Linked DNA regions of Homo sapiens. The protein of the gene in region 3 interacts with the protein of the main gene of each other region in a biochemical or structural test. Each region holds a gene or a part of one and is shown on either strand. Other genes may lie near its edges.

Region 1 (7,835 bases), on a different chromosome or scaffold from region 3:
AAGCCAAAGCCAAGGACAGTGGAAAATCAGAAGAATCATCCCACTATTCCACAGAGAAAGAATCAGAGAAGGTAGGTGTCCTCCTGCCATCTGGGAGGATCAGTTCCCTGTCAGTGTCTGGATTGTAACTGACTCCCTTGAGGCAATCCCAGCCTAAACAACTGACACCATCTCGGAGTCAGCTTCCCACTCTTCCCTCTACCCTATCTCGCCAGCCCACCTTTCCTCCTCTCATACCCAGCTCCTCTGTCTGCTCCTGTCCCAACATAATTGGATTTACAGAATTTCGGACTTGAAAGAGACCTGAAAGTTTATTGAGGCCAATCTCCTCTCTTGGAAGATGCGGAATGAGAGCTCCAGCAGCCCCTTTAACTTTGGGAAGCCAACCCCTTGACAGGTGGTGGGAATAAAGTCCCCCATCCCCATCCCTTCTTCTGTGATGGACTAACCAGTGTTTTCTTAGTTTTGTTTTCTTCTTGTCTCTCATTTTCTCTAGACTGCAGAGTCCCAGACCCCCACCCCTTCAGCCACATCCTTCTTTTCTGGGAAGAGCCCCGTCACCACACTGCTTGAGTGTATGCACAAATTGGGGAACTCCTGCGAATTCCGTCTCCTGTCCAAAGAAGGCCCTGCCCATGAACCCAAGTATGTCCTACGTGTCCTCTGTCCAGCTGAGGTTTTCTCAGAAAGAAAAAGAGACACATTTTCTTCCTTGCCTCCTCAGGGATGGCAGATTGACCAATTTCTCCTGTTTCAAAATGGGGAAAGGAGGGCTCTGAGGTCCTGGTTGCTGCTTGTGAGGCAGACAATTAGGGATTAGGAATTCAAAGGGAATTCCTGGCCCACCCTCTATCTCCTCTATAAGCACTAGGGAGGTTCACGGCTTGGAGGTCACTCACTGTTGGTGGGACAGAAAGGTACAGGACCTGAGAAGCTCTCTGCCTGTGGGTCTATAGACTCACATGTTCAAGAGAAGTGTTCCTGGAAGAGGTGAAACTAGGTTGATGCTTAAATGTTGAAAGGGGTCAGCCAGGCTAAGAGACACTGGCTGTTCAAGGCAGAAGTGACTGCATGAGATGTGACTGCACAGAGGTGATGTGTTCAAGGAAATTACCAGTAGTGGAGGATGGCAGCCTGGCAGAGGCTAGGTCAGGCTCCTCAGTCAAAACCATTTTAATCCTTCTACGTGCTTCATCTCCTGTCAGGTTCCAATACTGTGTTGCAGTGGGAGCCCAAACTTTCCCCAGTGTGAGTGCTCCCAGCAAGAAAGTGGCAAAGCAGATGGCCGCAGAGGAAGCCATGAAGGCCCTGCATGGGGAGGCGACCAACTCCATGGCTTCTGATAACCAGGTAGGGCGTTTTCCTACTCAAAAGATACAGGTCATTTTTAGCAACTGAGTGGTTTAAGATTGCCAGTGACTCCCTCAACATTTCCTGAAGTGTTTATGGCTCCTCTGTTTGATGGATTCTCCTTTAGCCTGAAGGTATGATCTCAGAGTCACTTGATAACTTGGAATCCATGATGCCCAACAAGGTCAGGAAGATTGGCGAGCTCGTGAGATACCTGAACACCAACCCTGTGGGTGGCCTTTTGGAGTACGCCCGCTCCCATGGCTTTGCTGCTGAATTCAAGTTGGTCGACCAGTCCGGACCTCCTCACGAGCCCAAGTGAGTGTCCTAGTCCTGGCTAATGCATGTGTCACCAGTTGGGGATGGTCTGTAACCCAGGGAAAACAAGGGTGTGCTTTAGCTGTGTAGGACAGAAGGGGCGAGTTGAGGGAAACAAGTCCAGCCCTGTCTCCACGGCCTCTTAGAAGACAATAGACCTGCCAAGAGTGAATGCGTTCACTCTTCCAGTAAGCATGATCCTTTTTAATTTTTTGACTAGTTTTAATTTTTAAAGAAATGTATAGGTACATTAAAAAATCATTCAGGCCAGACATGGTGGCTCACGCCTGTAATCCCAGCACTTTGGGAAGTTGAGGCAGGTAGATTACCTGAGGTCGGGAGTTCAAGACCAGCCGGACCATATGAGGAAACCCTGTCTCTACTAAAAATACAAAAATTAGCTGGGCGTGGCAGCGGGTGCCTGTAATCCCAGCTACTCGGGAGGCAGACAGGAGAATTGATTGAAGCTGGGAGGCGGAGGTTGCAGTGAGCTGAGATCGCACCACTGCACTCCAGCCTGAGCAACAGAGCAAGACTCCATCTTGAAAAAAATCATTCAAGCTGATTGAAAAAGTAGTCATTTCAATGAAAAGTCTCATTTCCGTCTCAGACTTCTAGTTTCCCTCCCTAGACCCATATATTACTATAGCCCTGCATTAGCAACTGGGATGCGGTCTGAGAAGCATGGTTTTGTTGTTGTGAGAACATCAGTGTGTATTTACATAAACCTAGATGGCATGGGCTCCTACACACGTACAGGCTGTATGGTATGGCCGGTTGCTCCTAGGCTACAAACCTGTACAGCATGTAACTGTAGTGAATACTGTGGGCAGCTGCAACACACTGGTAAGTATTGGTGTCTATCTAAACAGCAAAAAGATACAGTAAAAAGACAGCATAAAGGATTAAAAAAATACTACACCTGTATAGGGCGCCTGCCATGAATGGAGCTTGCAGGACTAGAAGTTGCTGTGGGTGAGTCAGCCAGTGAGTGGAGAATGAATATGAGGGCCTAGGACATGACTGTACACTAATGTAGGCTTTGTAAACACTGTTCACTTAGGCTAACTACATTTATTTAAAATATTTTTCTTTAATAAATTAACCTTAGCTTACTGTAACTTTTTTACTTTATTTTTACTTTATTTTTTACTTTATTAACTTTTTTATTTTTTGTTCCTTTTGTAATAATACTTAGCTTAAAACACAAACATGTTGTACTGCTATCCAAAAATATTTCCTTTGTTTATATCCTTAATTCTATAGTCTTTTTTCTGTTTGTAAATTTTTTTATTTTTTTAACTTTTTAAACTTTTTTGTTGAAAGCTAAGATGAAAATACATTAGCTGTTAGCCTAGGCCTACACAGGGTCAGGATCCTCAGTATCACTGTCTTCCACCTCCACGTCTTGTCCCACTGTAAGGTGTTCAGGGGCAATAACATGCATGGGGGCCGTCATCTCCTATGGTAACAGTGCTTTCTGGAATACCTGCCTGAGGCTTTTTTTAGTTACTTATTTTTCTAGAAGTAGAAGGAGTATACGCTGAAATAATGATAAAAATATAGTAAACACATAAGGAGCGTGTAGCCTAGATCCCTCGCATTCACAGTTCACAGTCGAGTTCACACTCCTACAAGAATCTCATGCTGCTGCTGATCCCACAGGAGGCGGAGCTCGGACCAGAATGCTTTCTTGCTCGCCACTCACCTCTTCCTGTGTGCCCAGGTTCCTAACAGGTTACAGAGCCCTGCACTTGGTGATAAGAATTTTTCAGCTCCATCATAATCTTACGGGGCCCCTGTCATATGTGTGATTTATCATTGAACAAAACACTGTTATGCAGTACATGACTATACCAGTTTCTTGAGTCCTTCTAGAAATTGCTGTGCATAACTAGCACATTTTCCCTTTTGTCTTTTTAAACAAGTATATCTTCTGTTTTATACGTTGACTCCTTTACTTACCAGACTTCTTGCATAGCTGCATAGTATTTCATTGAATAGAAGCTGACAAATTCAGTTTCTCAGAAGTAAACATTTAATAGGGACTTAGGAACAGAAATGATGTCTTGGGTGGCTGCAAGATGGTGGATCCCTGCACTTACCCTCCAGAAAGTATGCTTTCTATAGAGGCTTTTTTGGTTAAACATGCAGCTGGTCACACATTATACTTTCTTGTGAAACTTATGAGCACTAGCTGGTGGGGAGGCTTGGTAGACATCTTTGTGTGGAATTATTTATGCTACCCAACACTTTGGGATGCGGGAGTCAGATATTGGTGGTCATAGTGGTTTTGCATCAAGATGGCATCACTCTTGCCATGCAACCGGCATGTTTTCTTAATCTCTAAGGTCTATCACAAAGTGGAAAAGCAAGGTGTAAAGTGAGGGGAGAGGTGAAGATTGTCTGTATATGTCTAGAATATTTTCTTGAAGGATCGAAAAAACTGGCAACTGTGTTTGCTTCTGGGGAAGGAGGGACACTTTTATTGTACACTCTTAACTGTTTGAATTTTCACATGTTTGGCATCCAACTTGTCCATTTTAAAGTCATTAAGGAAAAAAGCTTATAAAAATGCTATCTTGTTACTTTAAATTTGTCTCTCCTTAATAGAAGTAATGTCAGCCGGGCGCAGTGGCTTACGCCTATAATCCCAGCACTTTGGGAGGCCGAGGTGGGTGGATCATTTGAGCTCAGTAATTTGAGACCAGCCTGGCCAACATGGTAAAACCCCATCTCTACTAAAAATACAAAAAATAGCTGAGCATGGTGGTATGCCCCTGTATGCCAGCTACTCCGGAGGCTGAGCAGGAGAATTACTTGAACCCAGGAGGCGGAAGTTGCAGTGACCTGAGATTGTGCCACTGCACTCCAGCCTGGGTGATGGAGTGAGACTCCGTCTCAAAAAAAAAAACAAAAAAATCAGAAGTAATGGCATTTCATTTATTCATATTTATGTGTTATTTGCATTTCCTTTTCTGTGAACCACCTGTTCTTGTCCTTTTCCAGTTTTCTTTCAGATTGTTACTCTCATGGATATGTAAGAACTTTTAACATAATTTTTAAAAGTAGCCCTTTGCCCAACATGACCCAATTTAGAACACACATCTGCCCACTGTTTAAGCCATCTGGAAAAGGAGAGGCCCAGTCTCCCTCCAGCTGCTCTTCTACTAATTCATATCCTTCATCTCAATAAGCACCTCCTTATCTTTAAGCACAGTCCTTCAGATGATAGGTTCAGTGCATTTCCTCTTTCTCTTCTGTGAAATCTTCTGTGAAATCCTTTCTAGGACTTCAAGTCAGCCATTCATTGAGAATGTAAGAACTTACTATGAACTAGATGGAAGATACAAAAAATTGCTGCCCCTGAGTGTGTAGCAGACATATAGCCATAGCAGTATTGAAATGTGCCATTGGAGGTGAATGCAGAGTGCTGTGGGGACACAGAGGACACTGCTGCCACTGTCTGCCAGGGAGCTGAGGAAGGTTGCATAGAGAGGGGAAATGCTAATTGAGTAACTACGTTTATTAACTATCTCGTACAATAATATACTTTAGTTGCTTCTTAATGTGAATTATGCTGGGTCTTTTTTTCCTTTCTGTCTACTGTGGCTGGTGACGTTAACTAATTTTATGACTTCTTTTCTGTTTTTTTTTTTTTTTTTTTTTGGAGATGGAGTCTCACTCTGTCACCCAGGCTGGAGTGCAGTGGCGCAGTCTCAGCTCACTGCAACCTCCGCCTCCTGGGTTCAAACAATTCTCTTGCCTCAGCTCCTCGAGTAGCTGGGATTACAGGCATCTGCCACCACATCTGACTATTTTTGTATTTTTAGTAGAGACAGAGTTTCACCATGTTGGCCAGGCTGGTCTTCAACTCCTGACCTCAGATGATCCACCCGCCTCAGCCTCCCAAAGTGCTGGGATTACAGGCATGAACCACCGCGACAGCCATGACCTTTAATATCTAAATGCTGGAGACCACTCAGAGCTCCCGATTCCTCCATCTAGTTGCTTACTTGTCACCTCTGTTTGGATTAACATCCCTAATATGACATGTCCAAAGCAGAACTCTTGGGTTTTGCCCCCTTCGCTTCATTTCCCCCAAGTCTTTCCCAGCTTAGTAAGTGATACCACTGTCTACCCAGTGGCTCAAGTCAGAAACCTGAGGATCATCTTTTCCTCTATCTCCTTTACCTCCTTCGTCAACTCATCCTTAAGTCCTATTGGTTATACTTAGAATTTCTATCCCAAATCCCTTCCTCTTCTTTCCACCTCCAGCGTCAGCACTCTAATCCAAGCCACTGTCTCATCTAGACTGTCACAATAGCCTCCTAACTGATCTTTATACTTTATTTACTCAACACTTATTTATGGAGTATCTTCTATTTTTTTTAGAACAGGAACCAAACATTAACCAATAGTCACCTAAAGAAATGTAAGATCTCATATTTGATAAGTATTCCAAAGGGCTGGAGTTGCAGCGAGAATCAATTATAGCACAGTTTGACTTAGGAAGGAGAGGGGGAAGGGCTTCCCCAAGAAGTACTGCCTGAGCTGAGACTTTAAGGATGATGAAGAGAGAAAGACTGAGGGTTCTAGGCGAAGGACACTGTTAAATCCTGTGGTGGGAGAAGCGCAGAGCTGGCAAAGAGGCTGAGAGGAGGCACTTATGGCAATAGCCCCATTTGGCTAGTGGCTACCATATTGGATAGCACAGCTCTAAAGGATTCTAGTTGCATAATTAACAAACTTTATCATATATGTAAATATATCAGTATAAAACTTTGCACGTAAGAGTTCATATTCTTTTCAAACACATGGGGCAGTCATGAAATTCTCCTGGATCCCTGAGGTAAAGATACTACACAATCTGTCCCTCCTGACCGCCTTCACCATCTTCTTTTCATGCCACTGTCCCTCTCATTCTGAACTTAAGCCCACTGGCCTGCACGGGCCTGCCAGCATGGACAAAGAAAAGAGTGAAGGCATTTAGTTGCTTCGGATCATCAAGGAACAGTGAGAAACTCCATGTGGTTGAACATAAACGTTGATTCCTTTTACTGCCTGAGCTGCTAAGTCTTGAAACTGAAGCCTCTGTTATATGCAGTTAGAGTATCCAAAGCTGGGTTCTCAGCCAGTAGATTAGGATCTGGTTGAAAGCTAGGATTCTTGATGCCTTGTCTGGTACATTTCCAAGCTGTTTTGCTCCACCATGCTCTTCCCTCTGTGTTTGGAAATTACCAGCCGGAGCGGTAGAAGCCACCTCCCTGCTCCACTTGGGCACTTTATTGTCAGCGCAGCTCATGCGCCCAAGATCCATTCCTTACCCCAGAGTTAGCTTAAGCCTGCCAGGAGTCAAAAAAACAACTCCCAGCAAAACCTGGGTCCCTGGCCTAAGGCCGACCTTGACCTAATGACCTCTCCAGGTCAAGTCCCCTTGAGCTAATAGGAAGTAAATGAGGGAATGGAGTTGGGCGCTTTAAAAATCAGACAGTGTATGAAGTAACAGTGACTTGTGGGGAGAAAGGTAGTCCCTTCTGATTTCTGCTTAAGAAGAGAGTCCAAGTTGGTGCTAGCATTTCGTTAAGCCTTCCTCATACTTCATAATCTTCCTTTATAGTAAGGACAGGCTCAGAGCCTTTGCAGGTAACAGTATCTAGTCAGAATTTTATAACATGATTTTATCATATTCTGTTTTACAGCCACCTTCAATATGTGGCAAGTGATACTGGTTTTCCATTTACAGTAGTGAAACAAAGTTTCCTATTTCAGTGTGTTTACATTTTTATCTCTTTTTTCATACCTAGTATTACGGATATTTACATTTTTAGAGTCTGTTTGTTTATTTTAGAGATGGGGATCTTGCTGTCTCGCGCAGGCTGGAGTGCAGTGATATGGTCATAGCTCACTGCAGCCTTGACCTCCAGGGCTCAAGTGATCCTCTCACCCCAGCCTCCCAAGTAGCTGAGACTATAGGCACAGACCACCGTGCCCAGCTAAATTTTTTTTTTTTTTTTTAAGAGACAGGGGTCTCGCTATGTTGCCTGGGGGATTACTATGTTGCCCAGGCTGGTCTTGAACTCCTGGCCTCAAGTGATCTCCCACCTTAGCTCCTCAAGTTGCTGGGATTACAGGTGTGAGCCACAATGGCTGGCTCTAAGAAGTCA
Region 2 (7,351 bases), on a different chromosome or scaffold from region 3:
GAAACCACCAGAAGTGACAGGGACTGGGACTGGCACTTGCAGCAGGGTGTGGGGTAGGACCAGGGTGTTCAAGGACAAGATTGAGAAGGGCCTTGATAAATGAGGACAAGGAGCTTGGCTCTTACCCCATGGGCTCGTAGGGGTCCACACGGGCTGAGGGGAGCTGGACGAGCTTACTGAGGTGGCCGAGGGTACCCAAGACCAGCCTGGCATTGGGCGTTGGGCAGTAGGCTGGGCCTGGTGTGCAGGGCCACAGCGCCACCTGGTATCCATCACTCTCACTGCAGCGTGACCTTGCCTGGCTCTCCAACCTGGGAACCAGTGGGGCAGCCTCGTCCCAGACACACTCTGCCTCTTTCAAGAGCAGCCAGGCCCTGTGGTCAAGGGCTCACATTCAGTGGTGTGCCAGGCCCCCACTAGGCTCCTTGCGTGCCCTCTCAGCTACAGCCTGTCTGGGCATGAGGAGCCACAGACCCAACCTAGAGCCAAGTTGAAAGTAGAAGTGAACACTTTTCGGTGAGGTCAGACACTCCTGATAGCTAGAGGAAGACTACAGAATTTGAAGTTATCAGACAAAGCATTGAGCTGCACCAGCTGCAAGGTGACCTTGGGCAAGTGATATTCTCTCTGGGCCCTTCCCCCATCTTTATAAACCAGTGGTGAAATTCAGACATCCTTCCCTGTTATCACTTCTTATCTACAGGCTCACAACCATGCAAAGGAGACACATCCAGACCCCGCAGACTTAAGCTCCAAGGGACCCAAAAGCCTGGGGTCGCTTCATGTTGGATGCATGTGCAGACCTGATTCAGGCACCACACAAATGCAGCAGGCAGAAATGAGTTTATTGCATTAGAAAAAACACCGAAGAAAACCAGCAAACACCTCCGTACTAGACAGTTATTAGTTTGACTCAAGGGCATAAAGAAAACTCAGATACTAGATTTACTTCTGGGAGGGGGTGATGGTCTCATCCCTCCTCCTTCCCTATCCCTTTAAACCAATGGACCTCTAGAGGTGTCCACTGTGCAATACAAGTACGTGACTCATTTCCCACTGTGCTTGCCTGTTCACATCCAGGCGGAGTTAGCCGGCCACAATGAGAATGCTCCTGAGGTGCTGGGACAGACAGAAATATGAGGATGGGGGTAGGCAGTTGAAGCCTGAGCCTGAGTTTACAGTTAGTGACAGTGGGGCTCCCATTGGGAGGGAGAGCTTGCCTTCCCATGGAGCTCTGGGAAAACTGCTCAGTGATCCCTCGCTCTCTCCCCACAAACCCTAGGGCACAGGCAATGGCACAAATGGCTGCTAGTATAAAGGGGGGTGCTGTTCAAGGAAATGAGTGACTCAAATTCTCTCAGGGGAGCTGCTCCTGGGCCTAAGGGTGCCTGCTGGAAGAAGCAAACCAGCTGAAACTGGATCTGGAAGAGGAGAAAGGAAAAAAAGGAGCTGTGATGCCCAGAACCCCCTGGATGGAGGGGAGACCCCAGGCAGAGGGGTCTGGAGCAGGACCCTGGAAGACAGAGCCGGGCCAGGCAAGCTGGAAAAGGGAACAACACTGGTGGGAAACAGAGCACTGGCCAAGACCAACCTGCTACCCTCCCAGAAGAAACCCAGCCTCAGAAATTCTTTCTCTTTGGGCCCAATTCTGCTAGTAGATCACGATTATACAACAGTCCCTGCTAGTTTCTGCTCTAATCTATTATTTCCATGCACACTGGCAAATCAGTGGGTCTTGAGAAGAATTAAACTTTCAATCATTTGGCCTCTACAAGTTCCCAAATGTCACTTGACATCCCAGCTGGTCATGCCCCTGGTCAGGTCGCAGGCAAACACTAAGGCAGAATGACAGCTCCTCTAGCTGAGACTCTGATGATGCCAAACTGTGATGGCTGATGGCAAAGATAGCAGCAGATGGGGCCAGAAATGAGCAGCAGCTTTTTGGAGAGGAAAGGCCTGTGCTGCAGGCCAGACTTCCAGGAAGAAGCAACATAATTCAAGTCCGTGAAGTGGCAAGAAGTTGTGGCAGAAGGGGCCCAAGGATGTCAGACCTGAGACTCGGGTACCTGGCAGCTCTGAGTCCCTTCTTCATGCTCACTTTCCCAAAATCTAACTAATGGAGGTTCATGTGAAGAGAGGGAATCTGAAAGTCTCTCTGGATTAGAGACTCCCAGACTGTTCCCTGCCTATAACCTCCTAGCAGCAAGTCATTAGGAAAATGCCCACTCATGCCCCAACCTGCCTTTCTAAAGTCAGAATGACAATGGAAATAACGTGTGCCTTCAAAACACATTTAGGATAAGGGAAAGTCCCTATCAGAAACGATTCTAAATTTTCTTGCCACCTTGATTCCACTTCATTATTTTATTTTTTTGAGATGGAGTCTCACTCTGTCGCCCAGGCTGGAGTGCACTGGTACGATCTCGGCTCATCGCAATCTCTGCCTCCCGGGTTCAAGCGATTCTCCTGCCTCAGCCTCCCGAGTAGCTGGGACTACAGGCATGCGCCACCATGCCCGGCTAATTTTGTATTTTTAGTAGAGACGGGGTTTCACCATGTTGGCCAGGCTGGTCTTGAAGTCCTGACCTCAAGTGATCTGCCTGCCTCGGCCTCCCAAAGTGCTGGGATTACAGGCGTGAGCCACCGCGCCAGGCCTCACATCATTATTCTTTCCATATCAAAGGTATTTTCTGGCCAGGCAGCGGTGGCTCACGCCTGTAATCCCAGCACTTTGGGAGGCCAAGGGAGGTGGATCACCCGAGGTCAGGAGTTCCAGACCAGCCTGGCCAACATGGCAAAACCCTGTCTCTACTGAAAATACAAAAATTAGCCTGGCGTGGTGGCACGCACCTGTAATCCCAGCTACTCAGGAGGCTGAGGCAGGAGAACCACTTGAACCCGGGAGGCAGAGGTTTCTGTGAGCCGAGATCATGCCACTGCACACCAGCCTGGGTGGTAGAGCGAGACTCCGTCTCAAAAAATAATAATAATTAAAATAAAGGTATTTTCTTAGAGTAGGGAATCCCATCCCTTGGTCCCCAGCTAAATACTGCGTACTGGCCTGGATGGTGGTTACAGAGACTGCAAATAACCTACATCATTACTTGCAGAAAAAAGGCCTTGGCTTCTACTGCTCCAGCCCAGACCTCATCCACTATGACAAGTCAGCTATGCTGAGGAAAGGCAGCCTCGGGGGCACAAAGGCAGGTTTCCCAAAATTGATGGCAGAAGATTGGCAATCCATCTAGGTGGAAGGAGGAATGGCTTTATCCTGTTTTCTCCGGCCTGATACTTGCTGTTACTCCCTTGATCCGGAGGCAATGGCTGCTCCAGCACTGGCCTTGCTTGGGGTAAGGGAGGGAAGGTGAGGGTTGTGGCTAAAGAGTTCACTTAGGTTAGGTTAGTCATCCTGAAACCGGTCCCATGTACACCAAATCCTTTGGTTCATTTAACACTAGAGTAACTTTCTGGGTCACGGATGTTCTAAAACTCACCTGGGTCCCACAGGTGTTGGCAACTTGGGTAGAGCGTGAGTGTTCTCTGGAAAGAGTTCTAGGTTGGGGCTCCCGCAAACTGTGACTCGCTTTCTGTTTAAACAAAGCCCCTCCCTTTCTCCAGTGTGGAGGACGCTTAGGAAACAGCATCCGAAGTGAACGCACAGACAAGACAGCCTTAATAAATTAGTATAATACTATTAGAAGGGGTGGCATTTTGTTCTGTTTCTTAGCAGCATTGTCTACATGCGGCCTGACGGTCTCCTTCCCTGGGAAATTTAAAAAGCCGTCCCCTGGTTGTTAGCTCTGATGTAAAATTATAAAATAGAAATCTGGTAGGGTTTGTTTTGTTTAAAAAGGAAAAGCCCTGGTGAGGCAGGGCGGTCCCAGGCAGTCCTGTTAGCTCTGGCCGTTGGGTCTGCCCACGGAGCTCCCTCCTGGAGGCTGGATCTGAATGGAGTCCAGGAGGGGCCGAAGTGCCTGTCCAAAGGGCCTGCAAGGAAACAGAGACATGAGAGGGGTGGGCTCTGGGATGTGGCCTGCTGTCACACACCCTGTGCTGCCCACGGGTAGGGAGGAGGAGTGGGCGCTGGTGGCAGCAGAAGCAGCACCAGCAGAGAAGGAAAGAGCACCTCGTCACCTCACTTAAGTTTCCCACCTGCCTCACACACCAGTGTTCTTGGAGGGCATCTCCGAAATAGCCTGCTCTGTATTTTTATTCCTGGGGTTCCCTCCTCAGGGCCTCACCTCTAGAGCCTGGTTAGCTGTGGTTTGAGTAGGCTGGCTACATACAGAGAACTAGAACTTTCTGTGCTCTATGTGCTTGTGTCTTTAATTCTTGTGAGCAAGGAAAAGATCAAATTTAAGCAGGGAAACTGAGGCAAAAGAAGAAGGATATGAAAAAGAAGACAAAGGGGTGAGGACAGCAAACAACTGGATTTTTTTCAGGAACAGAGGTCTGCCAGGGAGTACAGGGAATATTCTGGAAAAATGACAAATGCTAGGTTGCCAGTATTAATGCCTTTCTTTCACCCCGAGACAGAGTCTACCTCTAGCCTAGAGCTGGAGTGCAATGGCGTGATCTCGGCTCACTGCAACCTCTGCCTCCCAGGTTCAAGCAATTCTCCTGCCTCAGCCTCCCAAGTAGCTGGGATTACAGGCGTGTGCCACTGCGCCTGGCTAATTTTTTATTTTCAGTAGAGATGGGGTTTCACCATGTTGGCCAGGCTGGTCTCGAACTCCTGACCTAGTGATTTGCCTGCCTCGGCCTCCCAAAGTGCTGGGATTACAGGCATAAGCCACTGGGCCCAGCCATTAATGCCTTTCTAAAGGGCTCCTAGGTTGCTCTCATAGTAACAGATGGAAAAAAAACTACAAATACTGGAGTTTGGAGATTTTCCATGATTACGACAACCATAAATAAGGTTGCCCAGAAACTTTTAAGTCACTGGCTTTTTCTTCAGTGGATACTGCCATTTTTGAAAATCATCTCCAAGTTTAAAGGAATGAAGTACTCCAAAGTATAGACAGATGAAACCTAGAAATATCAAACCTAATTCAGACAATTCCAGGAACTCCACCCATAAAATAATAACAGCAAGCACATTCTGGCTACTCCAGTTTGCTCAGGGCCCCATAACCTAGATCCCTCAGCAGAGCTGTGGGACTGCAAACTCATCGAATGATAGGAAGGCAGGGCCAGGGCTGGCGGACTGGGGCTCCTCACCAGCCTGCCACAGCAGTCTTGTTTCCTATGCAAGCTCTTCCTGGGAGGTGCTTCCTCAGATATAAAAAACAGCCCACCTTGCTGGGCCTGCGAAACCTGCCAGGATCTCTGTTAAATAAGGCCATAGTTCAGGAGAAACTGAGTCAGAATAAGCAAATAGACATGGTCCTGGAATGAGCAGAGGCTGCCTGAATGCAATCAACGACAAGAGGGAGGAGGTGAGATGGCTTTGGGGGTGTTGTGTCCTTTCGGGGTATACTGCCTGGATGATGGCCTGCAAGGCTCTTCCAAGGCTTGGGGCACATCAGGACAGAACGGGCTGCAGAGTGTTCTTGAAGAAAACATCTGTTGAAGACTGTGCTGTAATACATGAGGGCAAGTAGAACATAGTCGTTGAGGGAGTCAAAGAGTTCATGGTGCAGTGTAAGGCAAATCAACAGCTACAAAACAAGCCCCCCTACTATTTTTCTGACCCCCTCTCTGCTTGTCTAACATTGCATTTTAACTGGGTGCTTCTGGGGAGTGGCATGCTTCGAGCACAATGGGAAGGACAGACGCCAGAATTTTGTGCAAGTACTGAAGCCAGTGTCAAGTGGGTGTCTAAGTTCTGTGGTTGCACTTAGGCCAGGGCAGAGCTGGTCTAGCTCTGAAGGTGGAGGTAATACAGGTGCGCATCAGTGGGTGGAGAGAATGGCAGCCTTCTGTGTTAGAATCTGCCATCAGGGCAGGCCCACCTGGTTGGGAGGGCAGATGGGGGCCAGAGGAAGGGCACTGACCGTGAATGGGGATTTTCAAGGTTGGCCAAGGCAGGGGCAGGGACAGAGGCCACACTTACGTGGAGAGAACTTCAGAGGGCAGGTCTGTGATGTAAGAAGGAATCTTCCGCCCAGTCAGGAACTGTGCCACTTCGTTGCTGAAGGTGTTACAATTGTGTTCAAAGAGGTTGTAGGCCTCACCTCTGTACATTGAAAGGTTTGCAGAACATATATGAGAAACCAGCAAGCGTCTATGTGGAATAACTCAAGCTAGGCAGTGGAATGGTGAGCACAGCTCAATGTGAGGATTGCGATTTCCCCCGTCTCATACACCAGAAAAGCACTGCTTATTTGCCATTCTGGCCATTAATAACTGATTTTTAAGGGAAGGAGAAACTGAAAAGACATGGCTCCTACACAGTTTCAGGAGAATCTTTACATTCACGAAAGCAGAACTCTGGTGTTAAGAGTTTACCCCCTTACTGAAACTGACTAAAGCCTCTTTCAGAGAAAATCTGCTCAAGTTTGTATTTCATCCCAACCCTTCTGCAAACCCTGTTTTTCCTTCTGCAAACTTGGCCAATACAGGTTGAGAACAGCGCTTGCCGATTTTAATCAGAAGGAATGAAAAGCCCTTATTTCCTCTAAAAATTTCGGCAGAAAGTATGTTTGAAGGAATATCTGTATCAGAACAACTTAGAGCTTTTTGTAGCATAACTGCCTTTTCTTCATGTTAATTCAGCAAAAAACTGGGCCAGGCCTTGTGCTGAGTGATAAGGATGATATGACATGGCAGCTGCCTCCAGGGGTTATTATCTAGCTGGGGAGACAGACACAACTAACCACCACCCCTGTCTCCACTCACCGGAACAGGGACTCCCCCAGGGAGGAGAGGTACTCCAGAAAGATTTCTTCTGTGACTTCTGTACTCCCCACATCAACCACAGAGTCTGGAGGCCCAAGCAATGTCCCTCCCTAAAAGAGCCAACCCAAAGGAAGTCATTAAGTTACCATCTCCACTGAATGTTTTAATGTGGCTTCCCACAGTAGACCACAAACACTCTGTTCTGACTTTTTTTTTTTTTTTTTTTTTTTAGACGGAGTTTCTCTCGTCACCCAGGCTGGAGTATAATCTCAGCTCACTGCAACCTCCGCCTCCCGGGTTCAAGTGATCCTCCTGCCTCAGCCTCCCAAGTAGCTGAGATTACAGGTGCCTGCCACCATGCCCAGATAATTTTTTGTATTTTTAGTAGATACAGGGTTTCACCATGTTGGTCAGGCTGGTCTCAAACTCCTGACCTTAAGTGATCCACCCACCTCGGCCTTCCAAAGTGCTGAGATCACAGGTGTGAGCTACTGCGCCCAGCCTGACTTCA
Region 3 (7,835 bases):
AAAAAGGGCCACTAGGTGACATTTTAATTTACAAATTGGCATCATTTTGGTCGACAAATACCCACATGCTGTTTTCCTCTGCTAACGAGTTGCAGAGAAAAAAAACAGCATGAATTTGGATTTTAATCACACATTTCTTCTGGAATCTCATGTGGATTAAAGATGCCAGGGACAGACATTTGACGTTTATGTTTCTCTTCATCAGCCTGCCGTAGGGCTATTTCTCTCTCTTCCAAAAACAAATCAGAAGTGTCTTCACCTGCAAATTCCTGTGAAAACAGATAGTTGAAATGTCAACGCAATAAACTTCAACTTGCAAAGAAAGAAATCATAGATGAGCAATTTCCTTTTTAGAGAAGGAAGGAATATAAATTATCCATAAAGTGGCTGGGTTTTAAATTATAGGATAGTGACACAGTATACTACATAGCTGAATGAACTGCAAACCTGTTAACTGGTGGGGGGGAAGATTACAAAAGAATCATGGGCCCCGGCATGGTGGCTCACGCCTGTAATCCCAACTTTGGGAGGCAGAGACGGGAAGAATACTTGATGTCAGGAGACCACCCTGGCCAACATGGTGAAACCCTGTCATTACTAAAATTAGCCATGCATGGTGGCACAGGCGCCTGTAATCCCAGCTACTTGGGAGGCTGAGGCAGGAGAATCACTTGAACCTGCATGGCGGAGGTTGCAGTGAGCCAAGATCACGCCACTGCTCTCCAGCCTGGGTGATAAAAGCGAGACTGTGCCCCCCCAAAAAAAACAAAAAAAATGGTGTGATACCTTACAGTAAATAGTCTTCAATGTGATTATTATGCATTGTATGCTTCTACCGAAGTATCTCATGCATCCCATCCCCTAAGTATATACACCTACTATGTATTCACACAAATTTTGTTCTCTTTGTGATAGAGTCTTGTTCTGTAGCCCCAGCACATTATCTCAACCTCTTCCTCCAAGATGCAAGCAATTCTCCTGCCTCAGCCTCCCCAGCAGCTGGGATTACAGGCACCACCACATCTGGCTCATTTTTTGTATTTTTACTAGAGACGTAGTTTCACCATGTTGCCCAGGCTGATCTCAAACTCCCAAGCTCAGACAATCCACCTGTCTCGGCCTCCCAAAGTGCTAGGATTACAGGCATGAGCCACTGCACCCAGACACTTTTTTCTCTTTTCTTTTGAGAGGCAGTCTTGCTCTGTCGCCCAGGCTGGCGTGCAGTGTTATGATCTCAGCTCACTGAAACCTCTGCCTCCTGGGTTCAAGTGATTCTCCTGCCTCTGCCTCCCGAGTAGCTGGGACTACAGGCACCTGCCACCAGACCTGGCTAATTTTTGTATTTTTAGTAGAGATGAGGTTTCACCATGTTGGCCGGGCTGATCCTGAACTCCTGACCTCAACTGATCTGTCTGCCTCGGCCTCCCAAAGTGCTGGGATTACAGGTGTGAGCCACTGTGCCCAGCTAAAAATTCTTCATATGCCAAGATACCAAGAAAGATGTTTCTCCTAAGGCTAATTAATAACTGTCATTAAATTAAGTTTAGTTATATTATCATTGACTTCGTAGCTATCAGTTAACTTTTTTTTTTTTTTTTTGAGATGAAGTTTCACTCTTGTCACCCAGGTTGGAGTGCAATGACGTGATCTCGGCTCACCGCAACCTTTGCCTCGTGGGTTCAAGCAATTCTCTTGCCTCAGCCTCTCAAGTAGCTGCGAATACAGCTGTGCGCCACCACGCCTGGCTAATTTTTGTATTATTAGTAGAGACGGGGGTTTCACCATGTTGGCCGTGCTAGTCTCAAACTCCCGACATCAGGTGACCCACCCACCTTGGCCTCCCAAAGTGCTGGGATTACAGGCATGAGCAACTGCGCCCAGCCTAGGTAACTTTCATTAGTTTTTTAAAAATTGGCTAATATTTTTACAGTAAAAAAAAAAAACCTTTGTATTTTGGAGAAAATATTTAAGAGCTAAGAGACTAATTCTTATTCAACAATCATGGATAAACTATTCATCAACTACTTAGGGTTTCACAGTACTTCCAAATTTCTTTAAAGCAAGATGTTCAAAGAAAAACCCTTCCCAAAAGTATGAATAAAGCACTGTATAACAGCAGAAGAAAGACATTCTATCTAGTAACTTTCACAAGTTCCCTCAACTAACAAAATTGGTATAAAATTATAAAAAGAACTACCAACGTTTTTCTTACCCAATATTCCATTATACATTTAAGACTACCTAAAATGAATTACATTAGTAATAAGTTTATCCGAATAACATCTCAAACATATCTATCCTTATTGGACTTTAGTTTTTCACTGTATTACCAGTCTCAGGTTTTTTGATTACAGAGATTGTGTAAACGTATTATCTTGAAACCCCATTTATTTGGCATGACAAATCAAGTGATAAAAATTCTACAATGTAACATAAAAGTGGTCACATCTACCCCTAATATTTCTGCAAGAGCAAATAAATACATACCTTTATTTGAACTAGGAAATCTCTTAAATGTTCCTTGAAAGCAGGAATATCTTGATTTAAGCTGAAAAGCCCTGTCACAAAGAGCTTTACTTGAGCACTGCAAATCAAAACACAATGATTAAATAATGATTTATTTTTCCCCCGAGACAGAGTATTGCTCTGTCACCAGGCTGGAGTACAGTGGCATGATCTCTGCTCACTGTAATCTCTGCCTCCCGGGTTCAAGACATTCTCCTGCCTCAGCGTCCCAATAATGTTTTTTTTTTTTAATCAAGAATTTTTTTTTAATTTTTGAGACAAAGTTTTGCTCGTTTACCAGGTTGGAGTACAATCGCACAATCGCGGCTCACCGCAACCTCTGAAGCTATTCTCCTGCCTCAGCCTCCCAAGTAGCTGGGATTACAGGCATGCACCACCATGCCCGGCTAATTTGTATTTTTAGTAGAGACAGGGTTTCTCCATGTTGGTCAGGCAAATCTCAAACTCCTGACCTCAGGTAATCTGCCCGCCTAGGCCTCCCAAAGTGCTTGGATTACAGGCGTTTGCCACCGTGCCCAGCCTTTTTATTTTTTGAGACAGTCTTGCTCTGTCACCCACACTGGAGTGCAGTGGCACAATCTCGGCTCACTGCAACCTCTGCCTCCTGGGTTCAAGCAGTTCTCCCCCTCAGCCTCCCAAGTAGCTGGGATTTCAGGCACCCACCACCATGCCCAACTAATTTTTTGTATTTTTAGTAGAAACGGGGTTTCACCATCTTGGCCAGGCTGGTCTTGAACTCCTGACCTTGTGATTCACCCACCTCAGCCTCCCAAAGTGTTGGGATTACAGTCATGAGCCACCGTGCGTGGCCTTTTTTTTTTTTTTTTTTTTTTTGCTTTTTTAAAGAGGCAGGGTCTCACTCTATCACCCAGGCTGGTGTACAGTGGTGCGATCATAGCTCACTGCAGTCTTAAACTCCAGGATGCAAACAACCCTCTCGCCTCAGCCTCTCCAACAGCTGGTCCTACAGATGCATACCACTTCTGACTACTTTTTTTTTTGTAGAGACGGGATCTTGTTTTGTTGTCTAGGTTGGTCTCCAACTTTTGGGCCCAAGCAATCCTCCCACCTTAGGCTTCCCAAAGTGCTGGGATTACAGGTGTGAGCCACTGTGCCCGACCAGGAACATTCTACGTTTATTAAAAGGTATATTTACTCTTGTAGGTGAGGGAAGGCCGACTTAAGGAGATTAGCCACATATTCCTGAAGAAAGATTTGGTTGTTAACTGGATTTCCAGGATTTAATGATGTACTTATTTTTCCTTCTTCAACCAAATTAAACATATATGCAAGAATTGATGCATGCATTGTTAAACCTGTTGATAAGAAGAAAATTATTAACTCCAAAATGTAATATAACTATAGATCTTAGCGTTTTTTTTTGTTTTGTTTTTTTTTTTTAGACGGAGTCTCGCTCTGTCACCCAAGCTGGAATGCCGTGGCGCAATCTTAGTTCACTGCAACCTCTGCCTCCTCGGTCCAAGCCATTCTCCTGCCTCAGCCTCCCGAATAGGTGGGATTGCAATCACATGCCACCATGCCCAGTATTTTTATTGTATCTTTTATTTTTTTATGGTATTTTTAGTACAGACAGTTTCACCATGGTGGCCAGGCTGTTCTCGAACTCCTGACCTCATAATCTCCCCGCCTCGACCTCCCAAAGTGCTGGGATTATAGGCGTGAGGCCCTGTGCCCAGCTGGCACTTAACATTTAAATCGTATTAAATTCTTACCAGCAGTATGTGAAGTGTCTGTCACAACAGAAAAGATATGCTGGAGAATATCACAAAAATAAGTTTGATAAAAACTCTGAGCTGCAGCTTCTTCTTGTGCAACATTTTGTAAGAGTGTAAAAAGTATCTGTAAGCCTAAAAGACATAGAATACCAATGGAAAGTTACTACAGACTGACAGCACTCATGATAGTATTTAGCTCTTATCAAAGTATTCTGAATCTAACCCTGTTCTCCCTTTTTTTTGGGATGATGACTAATAATTACTTGCATAAGGTTTCTTAAATTAATAATGGAATACAACTATATCCAATGCTGGCTTACTTATAAATTATAATAAGTTGTGTGAGAGCTAAACTGTGAAGATGTAAAGGCATAAAGATCATATAATGGACTTTGGGGACTTGTGGGGAAGGGCAGGAGTGGGTGAGGGATAAGACTACACATAAGGTGGAGTTCATACACATGAGGGATAAGACTACACATAAAGTAGAGTTCATACTGCTCACATGACAGGTGCACCAAAATCTCAGAAATCACCACTGAAGAACTTATTCATGTAACCAAAAACCACCTGTTCCCCAAAAACTATTGAAATAAAAAAAGAACCTCATGAATATTTTTTAAAAGCCTATGGGAAAAAAATTACAATCTAAGTTATGACTATTACCACCCTTTCACCATTTCTGAAAGCTCAGCTGATTCTATATGAACTTCTACAACATCACTACCCAGTAGAACTTTGTATTACGCAAACCAATTATTACTAGGCCGCTCTCCCCATAACTCAATTCTGCCTATGGACTCACTTGGAGTGGAGTGGAACAGTTGATTAAACTGCTTATAGGATTTTCTCAGATGTTCATATATGTAATTCACACACTCAAAACTCTGAACAAGTAATACCTTCCTATGTACAATTAACTATATTTGTATTTTTGGATTGGCAGGCAAATGAATAAAAGAACATCTTTTATTTACCCGTATCTGCGACATTCCTCATAGTATGTTTGAAAGCCCAAATGATGGAATCCAAAACAAGTTTAAACTGTGTAGGTGGAATAGCAAGGAATGCTGGGAAACAATGAGAATTGACAGCCTGAAGTAGTAAGAAAAAGTTCGTTCTATGTTCAGGATATTCTTCAAAGTCCTAAAAATAAGTGGTGGAAACAAAATAATGTTTCAGTGTCTTTGTTGTGCTAGACAGGAGGGGAAAAGCAAGGCTTAATCCAGTATAAATATTTGGAGTTTTCAATAAACCACAGAAGATAGAATGCCTCCTGAAAGGTAAACCCAAGTAAAATACAATCCACCTCTCACGGAAAATGAAACTGTCCCGTTACGCACATGAGTTATCAAATTGAAGGAGAAAGACAACCTTTTTAATAGAGAACTCATCTAAACCATTATTACCATAAGACTACTACTATCACTTTTGTTTTTAATTTGAAATCACCACTACAGATTACAAAAAAATTTAAGTTACCGTGTAAATGTGTCCACTTAACGTATCTTTTATCTCTTTTTTCTTTTTAAACAGTCTCACTCTGTCACCCAGGCTGTAGTGCAGTGGCGCAATCTCAGCTGACTGCAACCTCCGCCTCCTGGGTTCAAGAGATTCTCCTGCCTCAGCCTCCCGAGTAGCTGGGACTACAGGCATGCGGCACCATGCCCAGCTAATTTTTTTTCTTTAGACAGAGTCTTGCTCTGTCACCCAGGCTGGAGTGCGTGGCGCGATCTTGGCTCACTGCAAGCTCCGCCTCCCGGGTTCATGCCATTCTCCTGCCTCAGCCTCTCCGAGTAGCTGGGACTACAGGCGCCCACCACCACACCCGGATAATTTTTTGTATTTTTAGTAGAGACAGGGTTTCACCATGGTCTCCATCTCCTGACCTCGTGATCTGCCCACCTCGGCCTCCCAAAGTGCTGGGATTACAAGCGTGAGCCACGGCACCCAGCCTAATCTTTGAGTAGAGATGGGGTTTCACCATGTTGGTCAGGCTGGTCTTGAAATCCTGACCTCAGGTGATCCACCGGCCTCGGCCTCTCAAAGTGTTGGGATTACAGGTGTTGAGCCACCACGCCTGGCCATTTTTGTATTTTTAATAGAGATGGGGTTTTGCCACGTTAGGCAGGCTGGTCTTGAACTCCCGACCTCAGGTCATCCGCCCGCCTTGGCCTTCTGAAGTGCTGGGATTACAGGTGTAAGCCACCATGGCCAGCCTATTTTCTCTTGTTAACACATTTTTCAGTTTCTTATAAGCATATACTACACTTTTATAATTGAAACATGCAGACTTACTTTCTCATTTATTCAAACCAATTAATACAACTACGTTCATAAAAGGATGCCCCGACCTATGAGGTTTCAATAAATGCTACATACCATGTGAATGCTAAAATCTGTTTTCCATATTTACTTTTTACCAATCAAGATTCTGTGTAGTAAATTCTTCTTCTTGGAGTGCAGTGGCGCAATCTCAGCTCACTGCCATCTTGAACTCCCAGGCTCAAGTGACCCCCCCCCCCACTTCAGCCTTTCGAGTAGTTGGGACTACCGGCACATGCCACCATGACTGGTTACTTTTTGAACTTTTTGTAGAGATGAAGTCTCACTATATTGCCCAGGTTGGTTTCAAACTCCTGGGAAGTAAGTTCTTGAAAACCAAGAAAGTATTTCCCTAATATACAAGTTTAAATATTTAAACTCCATGGCATTAAAATTATGTTATATCCACAGACATACTTTAGCTTTCAAGAATTAAGGCTATCCTGCAGAATTTCCCCCTTACATAACTGAAATATTACACACCTTATTTATCATATTCAATGTGCATTCAAAAACAGCATCAAATATTTGAGGTATTTCAGCTGTTATATGTCCCCCTAACTTGTTGACAATTATGGCCATAGTACTAAGCACTTCTGGTTCTCTAGCAGCTGGGACATTTCTCTGATAATCAATGAGAACTGCATCCAACAGAGGGGGAACAAAATTTTCAGCGACCTGTTGGGGAGGGAAAAAAAAGTTATGTTTTAATTTAGGTACATGGTGACTATTTTAAACAACAAGGTTATTCCTGTCTATGAGATGTAGCATGATCATCTACTGAAAACAGGAAAATCTTGTGTTTGTATTAGGGTTTCCTACGTCAAAACAGTTTTTAGCAAAAGAAAGCAGGAAATCACAATGGGTTGGGAAGTCTCATGGACACACTGTCATTCAAGACTTTTTTTTTTTGAGACAGTCTCACTGTCACTCAGACCAGAGTGCAGTGGCAAATCTCTGCTCACTGCAACCTCCACCTCCCAGGTTCAAGCAATTCTTGTGCCTCAGTCTCCTGAGTAGCTGGGACTATAGGTATAGCACCATGCCCAGCTACAAAACTCTCACAATAAGAAAAGTGAGGCTCAAAATTCAGTGGGTGTCTCCAACTTAGGTGGCAGAATCAGGATTCTACGTATACTGTATATGTAAGATGGCAGCAAGCGAGCCCTCAATACTGTCTTTTTATTTTTGAGACGGAGTCTTGCTCTGTCGCCCAGGCTGGAGTGCAGTGGTGCCATCTTGGCTCAC
Region 4 (8,701 bases), on a different chromosome or scaffold from region 3:
GAGCCATATGTGCCTTAAGGACATGTTCATGCTGCAGATAACTAGCCAGAGCCCATCCCTTTATTTCCCGTAAGGAATACTTTTAGTAAATCTCCATTGGAGGCTCTCAGCTCTAAGGCTGTGAGACCCCTGATTTCCCACTCCTTACTATATATTTCTGTGTGTGTGTCTTTAATTCCTCTAGCACCACCGGGTTAGGGTCTCCACGACCAAGCTGCTCTCAGCAATTTGCAAGATGGAGTACTATATTTTTAAAAATCAGGTAACAGTCAGCTTCATCCCTCTGCAATCTGCTTAAAAGACTATCTTTCAACCTTTCAAGTCTATTTAGCTTTCAATGCTCTACAACAACCTTGTCCAACATGCCGCCCCAGACAACTCTGAATGTAGCCCAACACAAATTTCGTAAACTGTCTTAAAACATTATGAATTTTGTTTTTGTTTTCTTTTAAGCTCATCAGCTATCATTAGTGTTAGTGTATTTCATATGTGACCCAATTATTCTTCTTCCAATGTGGCCCAGATAATTCCTCTTCTTCCAATGTCGCACAGGGAAGCCAAAAGATTGAACACCCTTGCTCTATCACCTGATTCCTGGTGTTGCCTCAAAATTTACTACTGGTGCTCACAGAAATCTCCCTACCCCGTTACTAGCCAGTATTGCTTCCTTAGTAACCATGTGCTGCATAGATACTAGCTAATGTAGAAAGTGTTAGGTATCTTCCTGATACAGTAAGTAAATCCGTGGGATCAGAAAGATGTTATTAATTAAGGGTAGTTGTGGAATTAAGGGCTGAAAAAGGAGGTTGGAAGTAGAAATGGGTATGCAGAAGGACATGAAGTTGAGAGGGGAATGGAAGTAGAGAATAGATCCAGTATTTTCAAACACCAAATTTAAAGTAGTCAGAAACATAAACGCAATGTATAACAGAGTCAGAGGCATAAAATGTCACAATAAGTCAATTTTGGCAGCATGGCAGCAGGAATGAGTCAGATCTGAACCATACAACTAACATGAACACAATTAGAAAGCCACTGCTTTCAAAAACAAGAAGTAACAAGCAAATGGACATTCTTCATTCTTTCTTTAATATCCATCCTTTCTTTATCAGTTTTAAGAGTTTTGGCAAAATTAATATTTTATGGGTGAGAAGCTACAAGACAGTAGCAGTGGTTAAGTGTCCAGGGCTTCTAACATTGGGTCTGACCCTGGCTAAATTTCTCACTGAGCTACTCGCTAGTAGTTCCTTCAGTTTTCCTCGTATACGTCGATTAAAAAAAATACCGTTTGTGAAGCTGTGTTTATTCTAGAATAAGTGTTTAACATATGTAAGTTACCAACTGTGTCTCCCTTAAACACCCTTTAACTTCAGTTACAAGTTAAAACGTTCTATCAGCTTAAAAGGGAGTCTAATTTCTGTCTCTAGGGGGAAAAAAAAATCATGAGACTATAAGTCAACGAGCACGGTAATTATGCCACAGCACCGAGAAAAAAAGCATTTAGTGTAGATTAAGAAATATTTAAAGATGACAGATCCAACATCTGGCTTACGCAAAATGGAACTTGCTTGTGTATTTACCTCTTTTAACTTATTTCTGTCAACTGTACAAGGTCAAACCTCTTCCTAAAAAACCTCCTAACCAACCTTTCTATTTAGTTCTTGTCTCCTACTCCGTATCTCCATTTTCTTCTCCTTCCATTCACTCAATCAGTTTACTTGAAAAATGTATTCTAAGTCTCTAAAAAAACCGTCATTTCGCTAAAGTAAATATACTTATTGGAATTTCTCTGCTGTAACTAGTACTGCTGACCACCCAAGTTTTGAGACGGTTTTCCTGGTCGCTTTCTGTTTCCTAGGCACTGCACCAATTCACACATGGATACAGACTTCCAACAAATGACTATCGCCCCTGAACTTTATTGTCTCATAAGCAAAGCGTCAGTCTTTCCCCTGTATTCTATATTAAAGTAGAATATCTGCAGACATAAGTGCAATTAATGTTTTACATAGGCTGCCAACACCAAAGGGCTTTAAAATCGTTTCTCGATTTTGTCATCGACTGAAATCTCACAATTTTCCTCATGAGTAGCATCATATTTGCATCATAAAAATGTCAGTGGCGGTAACTTGAGTATTGCATAGGTTGGATTTTCCTTTTCCTTAAAACTCTGTATCAATGGTCTTATTTTAAATAACGCTATCAATTTACCTGTGTGCCAAAAATAAGTATTTCAAACATCTCAGAGGTGAAGAGTTCAAAAGGCATCAGTTTTCATCTCCTCCACAATAATGAAGGATGTTATTAATACAACCTCATTGAACTGAGCTTCTCTATCAAATGGGTCTAATTAACATTACATGCGTCCCAGGGTGGTTATGAAGATTAAATAAGATAAAGCAATAATGGCTGGCATGCAGAAAATATAAACTAAATGCTAGTTCAATCTGAAAACGTGTTGTCACTTCTCACGATACGCAAGGAATCATCTCACTTCTTTGTCAATCAAAATTTCAATTCACTGATCATTTCCCGTCCTTCACCTAATAGTCATTTTCGCTTTGGATCCTTAACTCGACATCTAGGTGCTGTAGATGACATTCACTCATTTTATACGGGAGTAGGCATGGTAGTAAAACGTGGAGGCCACAAGAAGAACAAGCAACAAATGCCGCTAGTAATAAAAAGATAACTAACGTACCACCAGGATGAACCTATCAAAACAGCGTGAAGATACAGAGTAATGTCCCTTACCAAGAACACTTGTAAGAGGTTTGTAACAGCGGATCGACTGAACACAAACTTCTACAAGGCAGAGCTTACATGCTAGGACAACCCGCTGCTCATCCCGGCCACCTCTCCCTCTCGCGCAGGCAATCACAGCCATCACTACTTCGGGAACTACAAAGCAAGCTCACCAGTACCTCGTTAATTTTTGCTTCCCCAGAGACTGGAGGGCCAGAGGAGAAACGTGTTCGTTCTAAATTCCAGGCGACTTAAAAGGAGTGCGGGGACGACGGGGGAAACACGTGGATCCATGGGAGCGTCTCTCTCCGCAGTGGCAGAGGACAGTCAGGCGCCGGGGCCGGGCGCTCGCCAAGGGAACGCGGCGCAACAGAGGGGCGGCCGGCGGGCTGCGCGGGCAGCCAAGGGAGGCCCAGGAGGGGCATGGACCTGGGGCCGCGCGAGGACGGCTGCAGGAGATCCGCGGACACCCTCCGGCCCAAAGGGCCTCCCCTGCTGATGAGGTGGAGGGGAGGGAGGGCTGGCGGCGCGTTCCTCTTACCGTCGGAATTGGTCTCAGGATCGAAGCGCTGACCGCAGCCCCGGTTGTAGCACAGCAAGGCCATTTTCTTTTCCCACCGTCACAGGCAAGGCCCAAACACCGGGAACGGCAAGAGGATGCGTTTGCCACTCCCGTGTCGCTAGCACCGGTCTGACGACTGAGGCGGCTACCGGCTTCCGGAAACGATCCGTTGCGTTTCAGGAACCTTCGCGAATTTTCCGGTCGCGCAGGCGCAGAGGAGAAGGGACGAGGCGGAGGTAGCGGCGGGAGGCTGGCACTAGCCCGGGCCACGATAGGTCGGACTACAGCTGGTAGCAACTGGGGGTCGGAAGTGGAGCCCAGACAACAGCGGAGGAGAAATTTCCGGGGCAGAAAATGAAGGTGTCCGAGAGACTGACAATTCTCTTCTGACTTCCTCAGTGCTAACTGGCTTTGGGTATCTCCTGCAGCAAAGTGGCCGCCCCGCCCTCTCATCCCCTGCGACCCAGCACCCTTCTTCCTTGCCTTGAGGCTGCGCCTTAGACAGCCCGGTGGGTATCTGTTTACCCCTTAGCACTAAGGGATAAGTGCACAGTAAGTGCAGAATCATACAGTGTTTCCAAATCCTCAGGGTAGACGTGTGAGCTTAGTAAATGAGAGGAATAGCGGACGAACCTCTCCGTGTGTTTGTGTCTCGAGTGCCCTCATCTCAGGAGCAATTTTAATAACTTAACAGTTGCGGTCACATTACTTTGAAAATACAAAAAACGTAGAAATCAGAGTAGCAAAGAAAATTATGGATCTGATGCTGTGCCAGAATTGATCACAGTTGCTCTAAAGCCCTGGGGTAATAGTTAATATTTCATGTGAGCCTCCACTTAAACGATTTATCAATACTCAGTACACCACTCTTGGAACAGCTAGTAAAACTTCAGGTGCATTATAAAAAGTACAGTAATGCATTGGCTTCAACTTGCATATTTCCCAAACATGGGCGTTTGCAAGAAAAGCAAACACTTTTTGATAACATATACTGAAGGATCTTAAAATAAGATCAGCAGCTTATAAGTGAACCTAAAAATCTATACACTGTTTCCATTGATCTCAAGGTTATTTAGAGATCTGCTCACGTCCTCCTACCCCTAAAGACTTTTTAGTTTTTCATATTCTCTTTCTCTTCTTCTACCTAGAAGTATTAAATTTTCATATTGTGATCCACCATAGATAGGTATGTTTTCTTCATTTAACCTAACGTGAGTATTTTTCTATTTTGTTTCATAGTCATTGTTACAAATGACGGAGTATTCTGTTGAATAAATGCACTGTAATTTAACCTTTCTCTAATTTCCCCAACTTTATTATATATAAGTTACAGTGCTCAACCTGTGTATTGTTTTTCTTATTTCGAATTTCCCCCTTTAGGAAAATTTTTGGAAAGCGACAGTTCTGGGGTAAAGGGCATAAGGCTTTTTAAATAACTTTAAGATTTTAAAGATATATAGAGCCAATTGCTTTCCGAAAGGTGGTACCAATTTACAATTGCACCGGCTGTGAATGTAATAGACCGTAGAAATTGATCATACACAATTGGAAATGAGTAAGTGGAGAGCTCTAAAAAGTTTTAGTTGTGACCAAATCTGTTGTCTTGAGTATCCTAGTATCAATGCAACATTACCAGGATTGTTAGTGAACTAAACCTTTTAAATAATTTTAATGTTTATTTCTAGTTTTTCATCTGTAGCATTTTACAATCAGAATATAATTGCTTATGGTAGATAATTTGGAAAACGCAGAAGTATACTAAGAACAAAGTCAACAATAATTCCACCACCCAGCAATAAGTACTGAATGGCTAAAATAACTCTTTGGTAAATTTATTTTCAGTGTTTCCTGACACCCCAAGCATTTATAGATATATATGTTTAAAAAGAGTCGTGTTATATATAGGAGTTTATGTTCCTCCCTTGGGTATTTTGAGAAACTATAAAATTAAATCATTCTTATGATTAAGAAAAACAGTGTTACAGCAACAGCCTGTTTCAATCCCACCTCCACTTACATTTCCATTCCAACACTTCAGTGCTGACTAACACCCACTGTTTGAAAAACTTTCTAGAATTTACATGTATATTTTATATACACTTTGAATATATCTTCCCTTCCTTCTTTACCCCCATACATATCAAAATATGCTTTAACTTTGACTATCTTGTTATTAACAAAAGACTTAAATAAATATGTTAACTTAAAACAATTGTCAATTATTCTTGGTGCAAAATGAATGTTTATCATACTACTCTCTTTTTCTGCATTTAAAAATATTTCTTAAAACAATTCAGTTAAGTTTAATTAAGCTCCATTATCTTGGGCTGGGTGCTGTGGCTTACGGCTGTAATCCCAGTACTTTAGGAGGCCAAAGTAGGTGAATCACCTGAGGTCAGAAGTTTGAGACCAGCTTGACCAACATGACGAAACCCTGTCTCTACTAAAAATACAAAAAAATTAGCTGCGTATGGTGGCGCATGCCCGTAACCCCAGCTACTCGGGAGGCTGAGGCAGGAGAATCACTTGAACCGGGGAGGCAGAGGTTGCAATGAGCTGAGATCATGCCATTGCATTCCAGCCTGGGTAACAAGAGCGAAACTCTATCTCAAAAAAAAATTAATTAATAATATAAATAAATAATAATTAAGTTCCATTATCTTAAAAACGATTATAGATATGTATGTATCCATGTACGTGTATAAAATAATATTTGAAAAGACCATTAATCTCTTATAATAACGGATATGTATAAAGACAAGGATGAGTTTAAAGGAGTAAAGTTAATATTTTACTTTATACTCTTAGATATGTTTTGAAAATGTAAATACATACTCATTTTTGATATAGTTAACATTATGAAGAGGACAAAAAACCAACTTAACAATGACTATTTTTATTTGTTCTACTTTATTCGAAAGATGAAAATTTCATCCATTATGATTGTGTGTTGAGCAGTTTGTGGTTTCTGTATTTTGAACATATATTATTCATCCTATAAAGGTGCATGTCTTTCGTATTTACATAGTTTATGTTTTTAATATAAAATGACCTTCTTTGTATCATTTTGTATTTTTGTCTTGAAACCTACTTTGATATTAATGCTTCAACTTTTGCTATGTTTCTCTTTGTTTTTGCCTAATAAACCTCACCCTATCCATTTATATTTAACCTGTGTCATCTTGTTTTGGGCATATCTGCTGTAAGCAGCAGATAGATTGCATCTTGTTTTTCTTTTTTTAACTCAAATCCGAGAATCTTTTTATTTTGCAGAGAAGCTTAACCTTTTTATTTCTGATTAATGCTTGAAAGTTCAGGTGCCAAAGTGGCCCAGAACTTATTAATGGTTTTATAAGTCAATTAACGTCAATAAGCCTGAGTTTTCTTATCTGTAAAACATTGATAACAGAGTGCTGTGAAGATTAAGTTAAACAATGCATGTAAAACATATAGTCTAGTGTAAGCACTGAATGATAATTTCACAAAAGTTTAGCAATGAAAATGGTCAACTTAGATGTTTAGTCCTATTTGGTTATTTCACTTTTGTTTTCCCTTTTATATGCAGTTGTGTCTGCTTCCTTGCTTTTATTTTATTCTATTTTCTAAATAAAGTATGTGCTTGCTTTTTTATTTTGTCCACGATTTAAAAAAAAAATATATATATAGGTTTTAATTTATTTCAGCATGTATTAAGTAGTTAATGTGTGTTGGTACATTAGATGCAGGATACAGTGGTGAACTGAAGTGACATTTTACCTGTCTTCGTTGTATTTGAATTTTATAAGAAAGACGGATGTGAATCAAATATTCCCAATTATGAATTCAATCACTGATAATTGCCATAAATGCTATGAATGGGAAGTACGTTATGCTAAGTTAGTGGAGATGGGAATTTGCCTAATCTTGAGTTGGAGTGCAGGCATAGGTGTTAGTCTAAACAGAAGTCCTGCAATGGAAGGTAGTATAACATTAAAGAAAGCACAGAATCATCGAGGTAAACCAATGCTCAGAAATAAGGGATACCAGATGTATTAGGACATTCTTGCATTGCTATGAAGAAATACCCAAGACTGGATAATTTATAAGAAAAGAGGGTTTAATTGGCTCACATTTCTGCAGGCTATACAGGAAGGGCTCAGGAAGCTTTAACTCATGGCAGAAGGCAAAATGAGAGCTTGTACTTCACATGGTAAATGCAGGAGCAAGTGGTGGGGGAGGTGCCACACACTTTTAAATGATCAGATCTCATGTGAACTCAACTGGAGAACTCACTCATCACCCAGGGGATGGCCCAAGCCATTCATGAGAGATGCGCCCCCATGACCCAAATACCTCCCACCAGGCCCCATCTCCAAGATTGGGGATTACATTTCAACATGAGATTTGGGCAGGGAAAACTATCCAAACTATATAATTCTTCTCCTGGCCCCTCCCAAATCTCATGTCCTCACATTGCAAAATAGAATCATACTTTCTCAGCAATCCCCTAAAATCTTGACCTTTGCCAGATTTAACTCAAAAGTCCAAAGTTTCATCTGAGACAAGACAAATCCCTTCCACCTATGAGCCTGTAAAATAAACAAGTTAGTTACTTCCAAGATACAATAGGTATGTATAGGCATTGGGTAAACATTCCCATTCCAAAAGGGAGAAATTGGCTAAAAGAAAGGGGCTATAGGCTCCATGCAAGGCAAAACCCAAGCAGGCCGTCATTAAATCTTAAAGCTCCAATGTAATCCCCTTTGACTCTATGTTCCACATCCAGGGCACACTGGTGCAAGGAGAGGGCTCCCAAGGCCTTGGGCAGCCCTACCCCTATACCTTTGCAGAGTACAACTCCCCCAACTGCTCTCATGGGCTGGGATTGAGTGCCTGTGGATTTTCCAGGTACAGAGTACAAGCTGCTAATAGATCTACCATTCTCAGGTCTGAAGGATGGTGGCCCTCTTCTCACAGTTCTACTAGCCAGTGCTCATTAGAGACTTTGTGTGGAGGCTCCAGCCCCATATTTTCCCCTCCACATTGCCCTAGTAGAAGTTGTCTGTGAGGGTTCTGCCCCTGCAGCAGGCTTCTGCCTATACATCCAGGCTTTTTCATGCATCCTCTGAAACCCTCACAGAAGCTTCCAAACCTCAGCTCTGGCACTCTGTACATCCACAGGCTTAACATCTCATGTAAGCCATGTAAGCTTATGGCTTGCATCCTTCAAAGTGGCAGCCCGAGCTGTACCTGGACCCTGTTGAGCCATAGCTGGAACTGGAGTGGCTGGGATGTGGGGAGAGTAGTTTGCCAAGGGCTCGGCCCATGAAACCATTCTTCCCTCCTAAGGCCTCTGATGGGAGGGGCTGCCATGAAGTTCGCTGAAATGACTTCAAGTTGTTTTCCCCATTGTCT

What was found.
Region 1: the proteins of XPO1 (region 3) and ADAR form a complex in vitro, tested with the Homo sapiens proteins (2 studies listed by BioGRID, with this or other methods).
Region 2: the proteins of XPO1 (region 3) and DESI1 form a complex in vitro, tested with the Homo sapiens proteins (one study listed by BioGRID).
Region 4: the proteins of XPO1 (region 3) and CHORDC1 interact in a test that uses a peptide from one of them, tested with the Homo sapiens proteins (one study listed by BioGRID).

Annotation. Positions count from the first base shown.
Region 1 is NC_000001.11:154,590,638-154,598,472, reverse strand, and holds part of ADAR (double-stranded RNA-specific adenosine deaminase), read left to right. Parts: coding exon 1-71; intron 72-496; coding exon 497-645; intron 646-1,205; coding exon 1,206-1,350; intron 1,351-1,477; coding exon 1,478-1,668; intron 1,669-7,835. UniProt on the Homo sapiens protein: Catalyzes the hydrolytic deamination of adenosine to inosine in double-stranded RNA (dsRNA) referred to as A-to-I RNA editing.
Region 2 is NC_000022.11:41,597,204-41,604,554, forward strand, and holds the end of DESI1 (desumoylating isopeptidase 1), read right to left. Parts: intron 6,951-7,351; coding exon 6,841-6,950; intron 6,179-6,840; coding exon 6,056-6,178; intron 3,988-6,055; coding exon 3,894-3,987; 3' UTR 825-3,893; downstream 1-824. UniProt on the Homo sapiens protein: Protease which deconjugates SUMO1, SUMO2 and SUMO3 from some substrate proteins. Has isopeptidase but not SUMO-processing activity. Desumoylates ZBTB46. Collaborates with UBQLN4 in the export of ubiquitinated proteins from the nucleus to the cytoplasm.
Region 3 is NC_000002.12:61,478,698-61,486,532, forward strand, and holds part of XPO1 (exportin-1), read right to left. Parts: intron 7,266-7,835; coding exon 7,071-7,265; intron 5,409-7,070; coding exon 5,240-5,408; exon of another isoform or gene 4,395-5,239; coding exon 4,260-4,394; exon of another isoform or gene 3,930-4,259; intron 3,843-3,929; coding exon 3,683-3,842; intron 2,585-3,682; coding exon 2,488-2,584; intron 1,887-2,487; exon of another isoform or gene 1,628-1,886; intron 270-1,627; coding exon 123-269; 3' UTR 1-122. UniProt on the Homo sapiens protein: Mediates the nuclear export of cellular proteins (cargos) bearing a leucine-rich nuclear export signal (NES) and of RNAs.
Region 4 is NC_000011.10:90,219,605-90,228,305, forward strand, and holds the start of CHORDC1 (cysteine and histidine-rich domain-containing protein 1), read right to left. Parts: upstream 3,446-8,701; 5' UTR 3,351-3,445; coding exon 3,287-3,350; intron 3,096-3,286; exon of another isoform or gene 2,925-3,095; intron 1-2,924. UniProt on the Homo sapiens protein: Regulates centrosome duplication, probably by inhibiting the kinase activity of ROCK2. Proposed to act as co-chaperone for HSP90. May play a role in the regulation of NOD1 via a HSP90 chaperone complex. In vitro, has intrinsic chaperone activity.